3 linked regions of the Homo sapiens genome follow. The protein of the gene in region 3 purifies or fractionates together with the protein of the main gene of each other region. This does not show direct contact. Each region holds a gene or a part of one and is shown on either strand. Other genes may lie near its edges.

Region 1 (3,654 bases), on a different chromosome or scaffold from region 3:
CACAGATGTTGAGGAGATGGGACTGAGAGGGCAGAGGTAGATCGTAGGAGTACAGGGCTGCAGAGTCAGGGCCAGCTCTGGGTTTGCCTGTCCTCTCTCAGAACATTCTGGCATTGTTATTGCATTGTCACCTCTCTAGGCTCTGTCTCTGTCAGTTAACATTTTTATTTTACTATTTTATTATTTATGTTTTTTGAGATGGAGTCTCACTTTGTCACTCAGGCTGGAGTGCAGTTGTGTGAGCTTGGCTCACTGCAACCTCTGCCTCCCAGGTTCAAGCAATTCTCCTGCCTCAGCCTCCCAAATAGCTGGAATTACAGGCGTATGCCAGCACATCTGGCTAAGTTTTATATTTTTAGTAGACATGGGGTTTCACCATGTTGCCAGGCTGGTCTCGAACTCCTGACCTCAGGTGATCCACTTGCCTCGGCCTCCCAAAGTGCTGGGATTATAGGCATGAGCCACTGTGCCCGGCTAATATTTATATATCTTTTAGCAGAGACGGGGTTTCACCATGTTGGCCAGGCTCGTCTCAAACTCCTGACCTCAAGTGATCTGCCCACCTCGGCCTCCCAAAGTGTTGGGATTACAGGCATGAGCCACCGCGCCCAGCTTAAAATTTTTAAAACTCATAATAGCTAACAACCCTGAGCACTTACCATGACAAGCCAAGCTCTGTACTTAGTCCTTCTCCTATTTTTTTTTTTTTCTTTGGTAGAGACAGGTCTTGCTCTGTTGCCCGGGCTGGAGGGCAGTGGCGTCATCATGGCTCACTATAACTCAAGCTCCTGAGCTCAAGGGATCCTCCCACCTTAGCCTCCTGAGTAGCTGGGACTATAGGCAAGTACCACCATGCCCAGCTAATTAAAAAAACATTTCTTTTAGAGACAGGGTCCTGCTGTGTTGCCCAGAGTGGTCTCAAACTCCTGGGCTCAAGTGATCCTGTAGCCTTGGTCTCCCAAAGTGCTGGGATTAGACATGAGCCACTGCACCCAGCTCTCCCGTTCTTTTCAGCATCTAAAATGTCAGGAAATAAGGACTCCAACAATCCTTGTTGCACAGAGGAGGGAAGTGAGGCTCAGAAAGGCTGGAGAACTTACGCAGGGCCACTCGGCTGGGTAGGGAGCAGGACAGGGATTTGTGCCCAGGCCTCGTTGCCCCCAGAACCTGTGAGCTCCAACCATGCAGTGCCACCTTCCCACCCATGTTGCTGAGTGGTGCCTTCAAACTGTTTGGACCAGACTCACAGGCACAAATACATTTCATGTCACAAACCAGGCCACACCTGCACGTAGGCACACACAACTAAAATATTAATATCTTTTTTTTTTTTTTTTGGTCTCAAACTGCTGAGAGTTTTTTTTTTTTTTCGTTATCTGCCTGCCTCGGCCTCCCAAAGCGCTGGGATTACAGGCATGAGCCACCATGCCTGCCCACTCTGATGTTTTCTAGTCTATTCTCTGATGATCCCAGCTCCAGGAATTTATTCTACAGATCCATCCACATTCATATGAAATGTGTATGAACAGAATTATTGACGTGCAGGTCGGGCGCAGTGGCTCATGCCTGTAATCCCAGCACCTTGGGAGGCCAAGGCAGGCAGATCGCTTGAACTCAGGAGTTTGAGACTAGCCTGGCCAACATGGTGAAACCCTGTCTCTACTAAAAATACAAAAATTAGCCAGACGTGGTGGCAGGCGCCTGTAATCCCAGCTGCTTGGGTGGCTGAGGCAGGAGAATCGCTTGAACCCAGGAGATGGAGGTTGCGGTGAGCCAAGATCGCACCACTGCATTCCAGCCTGGGTGACAGAGCAAGACTCCATCTCAAAAAAAAAAAAAAAAAAAAAATTCATGTTAAGAGGAAAAGGCTCAAAATAACCCAAGAGTCAAATGATGGGAGACCAACTAAATAATCTATGGTATAGCCGCACAATGGAATATTATGAAGCCAAATAAAACAATGAGGTACTGGTTGGAAAAATTCCAGAACATATTGTTAAGTGAAAAGAGCAAAACATAAAACAATGTGGGTGAGAGGTGGGGGAGTGATGCATGTTCTTTTGATGTGCTTGTAGCTGCATAAGGAAAAGCTGGGAACATGCACAAGAATTGAGTAAGAAAGAATGCTTTCCTGGCCACCTGGGAGTTTCTGGGTCCTTTTCCTGCAGTTAGCCCTGGGCAGAATGATCAGGGTAGAATTAGAAGTGAAACACAGCCAGGCATTGTGGCTTGCGCCTGTAATCCCAGTGCTTTGAGAGGCCAAGGTGGGAGGATCACTTGAGCCCAGGAGTTCGAGATCAGCCTGGACAACATAGTGAGATCCTATCTTTACAAATTTTTCTTTTTTTAATTAGCTGGGTGTGGTGCACGCCCCTGTAGTCCCAGCTATTTGGAAGACTGAGGTGGGGGGATTACTTGAGCCTGGGAGGTTGAAGCTGCCGTAAGCTGTGATCATGCCACTGCACTACAGCCTGGGCAACAGAGTGAGACCCTGTCTAAAAAAAGAAAAAAACAGGAGTGGAACTCATAGTTTCCTTTTTCTTCTCTTGTCTTTTACTTTTTCCTTTTTTAAATTGAGATGGGGTCTTGTCATATTGCCCAGGCTGGTCTTGAACTCCTGGGCTCAGGCAATCTTCCCACCTTGGCCTCCCAAAGTGCTGGGATTACAGGCGTGAGCCACCGCGCCTGGCCTATTTTTTCGTTTTAAATTACATAAAATAGAAATGGGGCAGGCACCGTGGCTCACGCCTGTAATCCCAGCACTTTGGGAGGCCGAGGCCAGTGGATCACCTGAGGTCAGGAGTTCAAGACCAGCCTGGCCAACATGGCGAAAACCTGTTTCTACTAAAAATACAAAAATTAGTTGGGTGTGGTGGCATATGCCTGTAGTCCCAGCTACTTGAGAGGCTGAGGCAGGAGAATCACTTGAAGCTGGGAGGCAGAGGTTGCAGTGACCTGAGATTGTGCCACTGCACTCTAGCCTAGGTGACAGAGCAATACTATGTTTCGAAAAAATAAATAAATACAATAAATAAATAAATAAATAAAATAGAAATGGGTTCTCGCTATGTTGCCCAGGCTGGTTTTCAACTCCTGGGCTCAAGTGATCTTCCTACCTCAGCCTCCCAAAGTGCTGGGATTATAGATATGAGCCACTATGCCTGGCCTCTTTTCCTTTTCATATCAATTTGATGTCTGAACCACGTAAGTAAAATCTTTTAAAATCTAAGGCAGTCATATCCACCTAATTTGATGTTCTGGTGGCCACATGTCCCCGAGGTCCTTACTTACCCAGAGCTGCCACGATGAGGAAGAAGGAGGCGGCCACGAGGAAGGCCACGTCGGGCTTGGTGTAGGAGAGCAGCTTCTGCAGCGTGGCCCCAGACGCCTGCTCGGGCGGTGGCCGGCCGCTCCCAGGGAAGCCCTCAGCCTCGGTGGCCGCCCCTGGCTCCAGGGCCTGGGTGCCTGGCCGCACGGTGGACAGCAGCCACCAGAGCAGGAAGGATGCGCCGAGTGAAATGTACGTCCACACGAACAGGGCCCAAAACCAGGGGTCCCGGATGGGCCTGCGCACCTCTGAGAAGAGCAGCAGCTTCACCATGGCATAGATGCCCACGAAGAGGCACACGAGGGTGATGACCAGCCACGAGGCCC
Region 2 (3,654 bases), on a different chromosome or scaffold from region 3:
GAGATGATAAACTTGATGCAGAAGTTTGAATTAGTGATTTGGAATAGGAGTAAGTTTCCATTTTGGCTGTTCTTACACATCAACTGTGGAATAAACTTGGTTCTTGCTTTGAAAGGAAACTTGGAAGTGTGGGTATTTCCCCATTCTTTAAGAACTGTTTGTTTATATTCTCCATGTTTATATTTTCTTGTAGTTTGTGGTCACACTAGAAAATCTATGTGCTGAGATTTGTTACTTGAAAAATCTTCTGGCTATTTAATTTTCTCTTCTTAAAAATAGTAGAATTAATGTCACATATTATTAACAGCCTGACCCATTCCTGAATGTTGTATGAAAAATAAATGAGATGCTGTGTCTGGAAACTTAGATGTGGCTGAAATATTAAAGTTAGGAATGATTAGATTATGTTAATGCAGCCATCTATATGAAGAGTTACGAATGTAAGATAACGTCTGTTTAATACTACATCTGTCTTAGAAATAAAGATAGATATATGAGGTCTTCAAACGGAAAGATTAAACTAGAACAAATATATCTCATTAACAAAGCAGTCAATTCCCTTTATTTTTAAAATTTTATGTACACATATGAATGATCTGTATAATGTACATTCAATATAGAAAGCTTTATATATTTGATAGTGTATAGAACATTTCACAATTACACTCATCTTTTACATAACATCTTGACATCCATTTTTAAATTTTTTTGCACAAGCTCCTTTTCATTCAATTTGGTAAAGCCAGTTATACATACTAATGTGTACTGTGAGCTTTCAGAAGGTTAATGATTGAGGATGCCAGTGAAGGGTGCAGGGACAAAACCTAATAGTCTTGGATGGTGGGGGGAGGATGGCCACGCAGACTTGATGCAGGAGAGGGAAATATTCTTTCCTGGGGAAAAGTGACTTAGCCCAATTTTTGTTGACTGTAGCTCAACCCTACAGTCATGCTAGTTCAAAAAAAAAATTACAAAAACTAGGAAGAAAGTTTTGTCTTTTTGATTCACAGTTTTGTAAACAGATATAAAGGAACAAATGTGCTTACATACACCAAGAAAAAAAAAATTCTTGTGTACCCACTTATGTTGATCCACAGAGTGCTTTCTTATAATGTGATACAATTAGGATCACTGACTTTTTTTCCTAAAAATATATTTATAGAAAAAGGAATAACACTGTCATGAAACCAGGAGAAAGGCAGTAAGAGTTTGCTTCAACGTATCAGCTGGAGGAATGTGGACTTGGCACTGGCCTTTCAGCGTTTATTGTCTCTCGTGAATATTTCAAGTCTGATAGCCAAGGTCGCCTGCCTCATGGTCTACAGGAGGTGGCAGGTTAGACATGACTGATGTAGATGTACCTGCGGTAAGGTAGCCAGCAACTCCAGGTCCTGCAAGAGAGAAAGGTAAACACACACCTCTAGAAAGCAGTCAAGTGAAAACATTGACCTTTATAAAAATGTCAGAACCTGCTCAGGCACTCCATCACACAAAACTAATCATCTATTTCAATTACCTAAATTACATCTATACCTTAATAAACAGCTACATAGTACTATTTTCATGTTTGCCTACACTATAGACTAGAAATCATTTCAAAATGTATGCTGGACAGTAACACTGGTGTGGAAATATGGATAAAATTTTCTTTCTTACATTTGGGAAATTCAATCTTTCAAAAAATTCCGAGCACTGAAAAGAACTATGTCGAATGGAAAAAATGGAAACAGACAGACAAAAGAAACTCTACACTCAGCTCATCCAAAAGTCATATGTGACAAAATTCAACATAAACACTTCTGTCAACACTCAAACTAACCTATTTTCATTTGGTGCAAAGAAATGCTATTATAACAAGTAACACCAAACGAACAAGGGTTGCTAAACCAAGGACTCTGAAAAAGAAAAGGCTCTGGACATCCATCTGTCATAGGTTAAAACAAGAATGCTATGTGAAAGGGTACTGATATTTTAGTCTTATATTTCTCCCTTGATTCTAACAGTTTCTATTGCATGAAAATGCCATATATGCCAGCATTTATCGAGATGTGTCCTATGGGCATATTAATGGCTTTAGCCCTCTAGAGTTTATTTTAAACATTGCATAAACATTTAATTACATCTCAGAAGCACTGCACAAACTAACAAGTACTTGCAAGGGACACTGTAGCATAATACTGCATACTGAGCAATAGTTTTAGCTGAAATTGTAGGAAACAAGGCAAACAACTAAGGAACATTGAGGGTTAGGACTAGAAAGGCAGTGGGAGCGGCATGCATTTAGCAAAACATTTCTCTACCTGCTTCAGAGAGCTACACAGAAGTTAGCAAGCTGCCTGGCAGAGCGGATCTAAAGCCCGCTCCTGAGGTGAAGGGGGCTGCTGCCAGTTAGAAGGGAAGGAGAGACACCTGAGGGGAAAAAAGAAATATAAGCAGCAAGGGAAGTTGTGAGGAAGTGCAAACAGCAGAGTAGTTTGATGAAGGTAGAAACAGGGATTGGTGGAGGACAAAAAGGCCACCATTCAGATTCATCTTGTTTTTGACCTTAAAAGTATTGGTACTATGGATGTGAAATGGCTTGTATAGATACATAGGCAGAGATGACTCAGCCTGTGTGAGCTGTAACTGAAGCCAACCAGAGTGCCCAGGTACTTGGAACGCTGTACTTATAAAAACCTTGTACTTGTAGAACTTACAAAAAATATTTCTCCTTTTTAAGGTACTGTGGGAGCCTGCATCTATCAACTCCTGCCTTGAGCCAATCAGGATGCCAGGCCTTTCACAGTCTGCTCAGGAAAAAGGCCACCAGGTCAACAAACCCTTCTGACAACGCAGTTCAGAGCTACAGCAGCACCCTGTGATCATTTCCCACCACCCTCATATTCTCTGAACTTTAGGCTGCAGCATGATTACTGCAAAACCATCCAGTAGGTGTCATCAAAGATGTAACCCTTAACAGTAAGACCTCAAACACTCCAGACTGTGTAGTTTCTGAGCAATTCTGATTGTGGGCTCAACTTGGTTCCCATCAAAATAGTAGGTTACAAGACCAAACCATGAATGCTGCATCTAGAAAGTGGATTAATGACGCAGTTCTCAAACTGTGTGCTGAGGCACCCTGGGGCATTGCTGGATATTTATTTATTCCCTTTGCCCCTCTGTGTGTGTGTGTATTTAACAGATGGGGGTCTCACTATGTTGCCTTGAACTCCTGGGCTCAAGCAACTCCCCTATCCAGGCCTTGAACTCCTAGGCTCAAGTGATCTTCCCACCCCAGCCTACTGAGTAGCGGATTCGGCCTGTCCATGTGGACTACAGTTGCCTGCCACATCATCCAGCTAACTGCTGGGTATTTTAAATTTGAAACACAGCGCCATCTGCTGACCACCATACAAACAACTACTTTCAAGTTGTCTTGCAATTACTTCATAAACTAAATTATTAGGTATTTCTTTTGGCTTGGGGACGGATGAAAAAATTACTGAGCTATTAAGGGCACTGTGAACTGAGAAAATGTGGGAACCTCTGAGCTAAAATCTAAATGGTGAAATGATGGGCTTAGAAGGAAGAAACCAAATTTTAGTACCATCATTTGCCTCTTTAGGAAAGGCAAATCAAAATCAATTCCCGGATAGTTCTACAAATGAAATCCGA
Region 3 (3,654 bases):
AAAGCTGCACACATTGGAGCTCAAACAGCTGCCTCTCACCACGACCGGAAATGCTGACAAATGTGTATATATTATCAATCCAGGGAGGCTTGGGTTTAAAATAAAATTTCTTTATTGCAAGTGTCCAAGTCCTTAGGATTTGTCCTTAAAGGTACTAGAAGATGAGTAAGACCACACACACCAAGACTATGTTTAGTCTTTAGAGTAAACTAGCAAATGGCCAGTTTGTTCTAGGATGCATTGCATCAGACATCACAGTACATGAAGAAAATCTGCTTTTTGTGAAAAGCCACCAGGCATTTTAGATCCCGTTTACCATGAAGTGCAGACACAGCAGATACCCAGATAATACAGTCAGTGCAAAAGTCAAATGAGTAAGTCAGCTCTTTGATGAGGCTGGCTACACTGCAAAATATAAATGAAACTCGAAAATAGAAGGTAAGGTCTATTTACAAAAGTTTGTTTAGTAAAGTGACTTGAAAAAAGTTGTTAACCACTTCCCAGGCATCCCTCCCCTCTCCCACCAAAACAAACAAACAAAAAACAACAACAACAAAAACCCTGAAAATTATCTTGAAAGTCAAGTTAAAACTATGTGGTGAAAAAGAGAGTGCTTGTTCCAGGTAAAGGACTTCAAGATAATTTACAGGCAGATTTATTTTTATTAGTAAAAGTCACAAATAGGAAAAGACTTATTGGCTGACTTTGAGCTGTGTGCTTTTAAAAATGTCTCTATTATTACGTTAACAAGAAAAAAAAATCAAGCAAGTTTTTGCTTCCAGTTTTGAATCTTCCAGCAACAGTTGGTGAAATCAACAAGGTATTAAAATGAAACCCAGCAAAACCCAGTCAGTTCTTTCCAGTTGTCTGCCTGTTTCTTTCTAGTCACCTTGAATTCAATTCCCAATTAGCTGAGGACAACATGCCGGTCAAAGACAGACTTTCGCTGCTCTTGGACTTGAAGCTTCCAGCGCTGCTGTGCATATTCTACCTTGTTCAGCACGTTGGCTCGACTGCGGGAGCGGGCTAGCACATCGTGTGCATTTGCAAAAGGCTGGTGATCCTAAAAGTCCAGGAATGGAGAACATTAGAGATGGCACAGTCAGTGTAAAACATAGACACACAACAGTGACCAGCCCGCCACAGAAATAGGGGTAGGTGGACTTTTCAAACAACAGAGCATCTATTTAGCTAAGCACTCCTAAGCGCTCAACTACCAGATAGAGTATGAACTCAAGTACAGACCTAGGTGGTTCAAGAAACATAAGCGATGACAGAGTATTTGTGAAACGTTCCCATGGATTGCCATTTCCAAAGATATTTCCCTTAAAGAAGTGGAGACCAAGCAAAAGACAGTGGTCATTTGTGTTAAAGAGAAGCCTTCCTTAACTGATAGGGAAAAGAAAATCTATTTTCATGTTAACATCTCTCCATGTTATAGATATGGAAAGTAGGGTCTTTCCTTGCTTTATTCGATACTATAAAGCTAATCTGTGGCAGAGGAAAGATCTGTCTTTTAATTTCCTGTCTCCATTAGAATTGTTTTCTTGCCAGCTTGGGGCCACATCACTCTGGGAGGGTGAGCGACAGAGTCTTATCTTGGGTTGTTTTTAATCTCTCCCTGTACCCTCAACACACACACTAAATGGATTAGCTTCCAAAAGCTTCCTCATTTCCCCACTTCCCCAATGTGTAATGAAAAGAGACACAGCTCAAGTGCTACAATCACCCTCTCTATTCAACAAAGATTGAATCTTCCATTGTTAAGCACCCAGTGGCTTCCATGTAAGTTGCTGCCTTGGGAAAGAGGCTATTGAAGGGTTGCCCAGGTATCTGTATAGAAAACCAACCTAACCTGGTCAAAGTAAACGAGTACAACTGGATGTTTGTAGTCATTACACAGGAAACCACCATGCTAATCTATCTATGAATGAGATATAAACACAGCTGTCTAAATGACAAAAAGCATTCAATAGTAATTTATTGCTTTTGTTTGCCTTTTCCTTGATCTCTTTTTCTTGAACCCCGTGTTAGCAAAGCTTCTCAATGTTCCAACAGAAGATCCAAGTCACAAGTTGTACCTCTTATACTAAACTTTGCCTCTAGGAGAGAAACAACATTATTTTGCTGTGCATGTTTGAAAAAGCTCTATTATATATCCAGGGCAGGAGTCTGCATGTATATGGAAAGCTATATACATAACCACATAACTATATATACAACTATAATTATAGGAGTTAGAACACCTGGTCTTGTTTTTATAGCAAGGCATTTATACAATGTCTACATTTGAAAGATATCAAAGAGTTTTTATAAAGAATCTTTCCTCCTCTTCTTTGTCAAAATTCCTTCAACTTTTCACTTTATTTAGGTAATGGCTTGTACAAATCCTAAAACTCAAGTTATTTAAAAAGTGGATTTTTTTTTTTTAAAGAGATGGGGTCTCACTATATTGCCCAGACTGGCCATGAACTTAATTTTTTTTTTTTTTTTGAAATAGGGTCTACCCATGTTGCCCAGGCTGGAAGGCAGGGGCTATTCACAGGTGTGATCACAGCTCACTGCAGCCTTGAACTCCTGGCCTCAAGTGATCCTCCTGCCTCAGCGTCCCAAGTAGCTGGGACCTATAGCCTATTTTTAAACTTTTAACCTTACAAATGAAAATAATAAAGGCAATTTCATGAGGCTTAAAATGTTTTAAAAAATGTAAGAAAAAAGCTAAAAAAGAAAAAAAAAAAGGAGGCAGGCTAAAGTTATAGAATTGCTTGATTTTCCATTATGGCAATAAATTGACCCAAGGTCATTTAACAAATTAGCATAAAGACTAAAACTTAGCCTGCCTAACCCTGACTTGGTGTTATATTGTCTCAAAACAGATTTTGGTCAGGTAGATTAAAATGACACTATAAGAATATGGTGCTTCAGTGAATTTGTGTATAAAATATCATCCCCTGAAGTCAAGGACCAGAGGAGGAAAATATTATCACCATTGGTTTGTTTTGACATAAGCAATACTGGGAAGAAGGATGTACTTGATCGGCAGAGGACCTCTCAGTTGCCTAGTGCTGTTATCTATTCTTCAAGGTAGGGGAGAAAAATCTTCTTAAGGAACAAGTTCAAAAGACTAAACAAACCAGCTAATCCTTTGGGTCTGCTCTCTATCCATCAGAACGAGATTGAACTAGCTGCTCATGGTCACAGATGCTGGGGGAATGCAAATAGAGATTTACCCTTTTTATGTTTGTTCTTTTCACACCTGATAAAATTACAATAAATACAAAACATGTTTTACTGTAATGCTTTGGTAATAACGATGATGTGTCATGGATATATGATATAGTAAATATTGTGACTACTTGCAGTGAGCTTAACTATTTGTACTCACTTTTATTTGCTTTAAAATGCTCTACACTGAACAAAAACAGAAAAAATGAAAACTGATAGTTCAACAAAAACATTTTTAAAGTATATAAATAGTGCAGAACTCACATCTTGGATAAGCAACAGTTTTAAAAATTAAAATTCACTTATTTTTGTAGAGTTGTTACCATAAATTCACAGCTCTGGTCAGAAAACCTCTCTGCCTAGAATCAGTTTAAAAGACATCCAAGAGTCAGCCAGGCCTCACAGAGACAGTGTTCTCAAATAGTCAAT

What was found.
Region 1: the proteins of TMEM9B (region 3) and ABCB9 purify together in Homo sapiens (affinity purification with mass spectrometry; 2 studies listed by BioGRID and IntAct, with this or other methods). This does not show direct contact.
Region 2: the proteins of TMEM9B (region 3) and DNAJC13 purify together in Homo sapiens (co-immunoprecipitation; 3 studies listed by BioGRID and IntAct, with this or other methods). This does not show direct contact.

What each region holds. Positions count from the first base shown.
Region 1 is NC_000012.12:122,956,344-122,959,997, forward strand, and holds part of ABCB9 (ABC-type oligopeptide transporter ABCB9), read right to left. Parts: coding exon 3,292-3,654; intron 1-3,291. UniProt on the Homo sapiens protein: ATP-dependent low-affinity peptide transporter which translocates a broad spectrum of peptides from the cytosol to the lysosomal lumen for degradation.
Region 2 is NC_000003.12:132,535,913-132,539,566, reverse strand, and holds the end of DNAJC13 (dnaJ homolog subfamily C member 13), read right to left. Parts: intron 1,392-3,654; coding exon 1,285-1,391; 3' UTR 535-1,284; downstream 1-534.
Region 3 is NC_000011.10:8,947,413-8,951,066, forward strand, and holds part of TMEM9B (transmembrane protein 9B isoform a precursor), read right to left. Parts: intron 1,064-3,654; coding exon 908-1,063; 3' UTR 1-907. UniProt on the Homo sapiens protein: Enhances production of pro-inflammatory cytokines induced by TNF, IL1B, and TLR ligands. Has a role in TNF activation of both the NF-kappaB and MAPK pathways.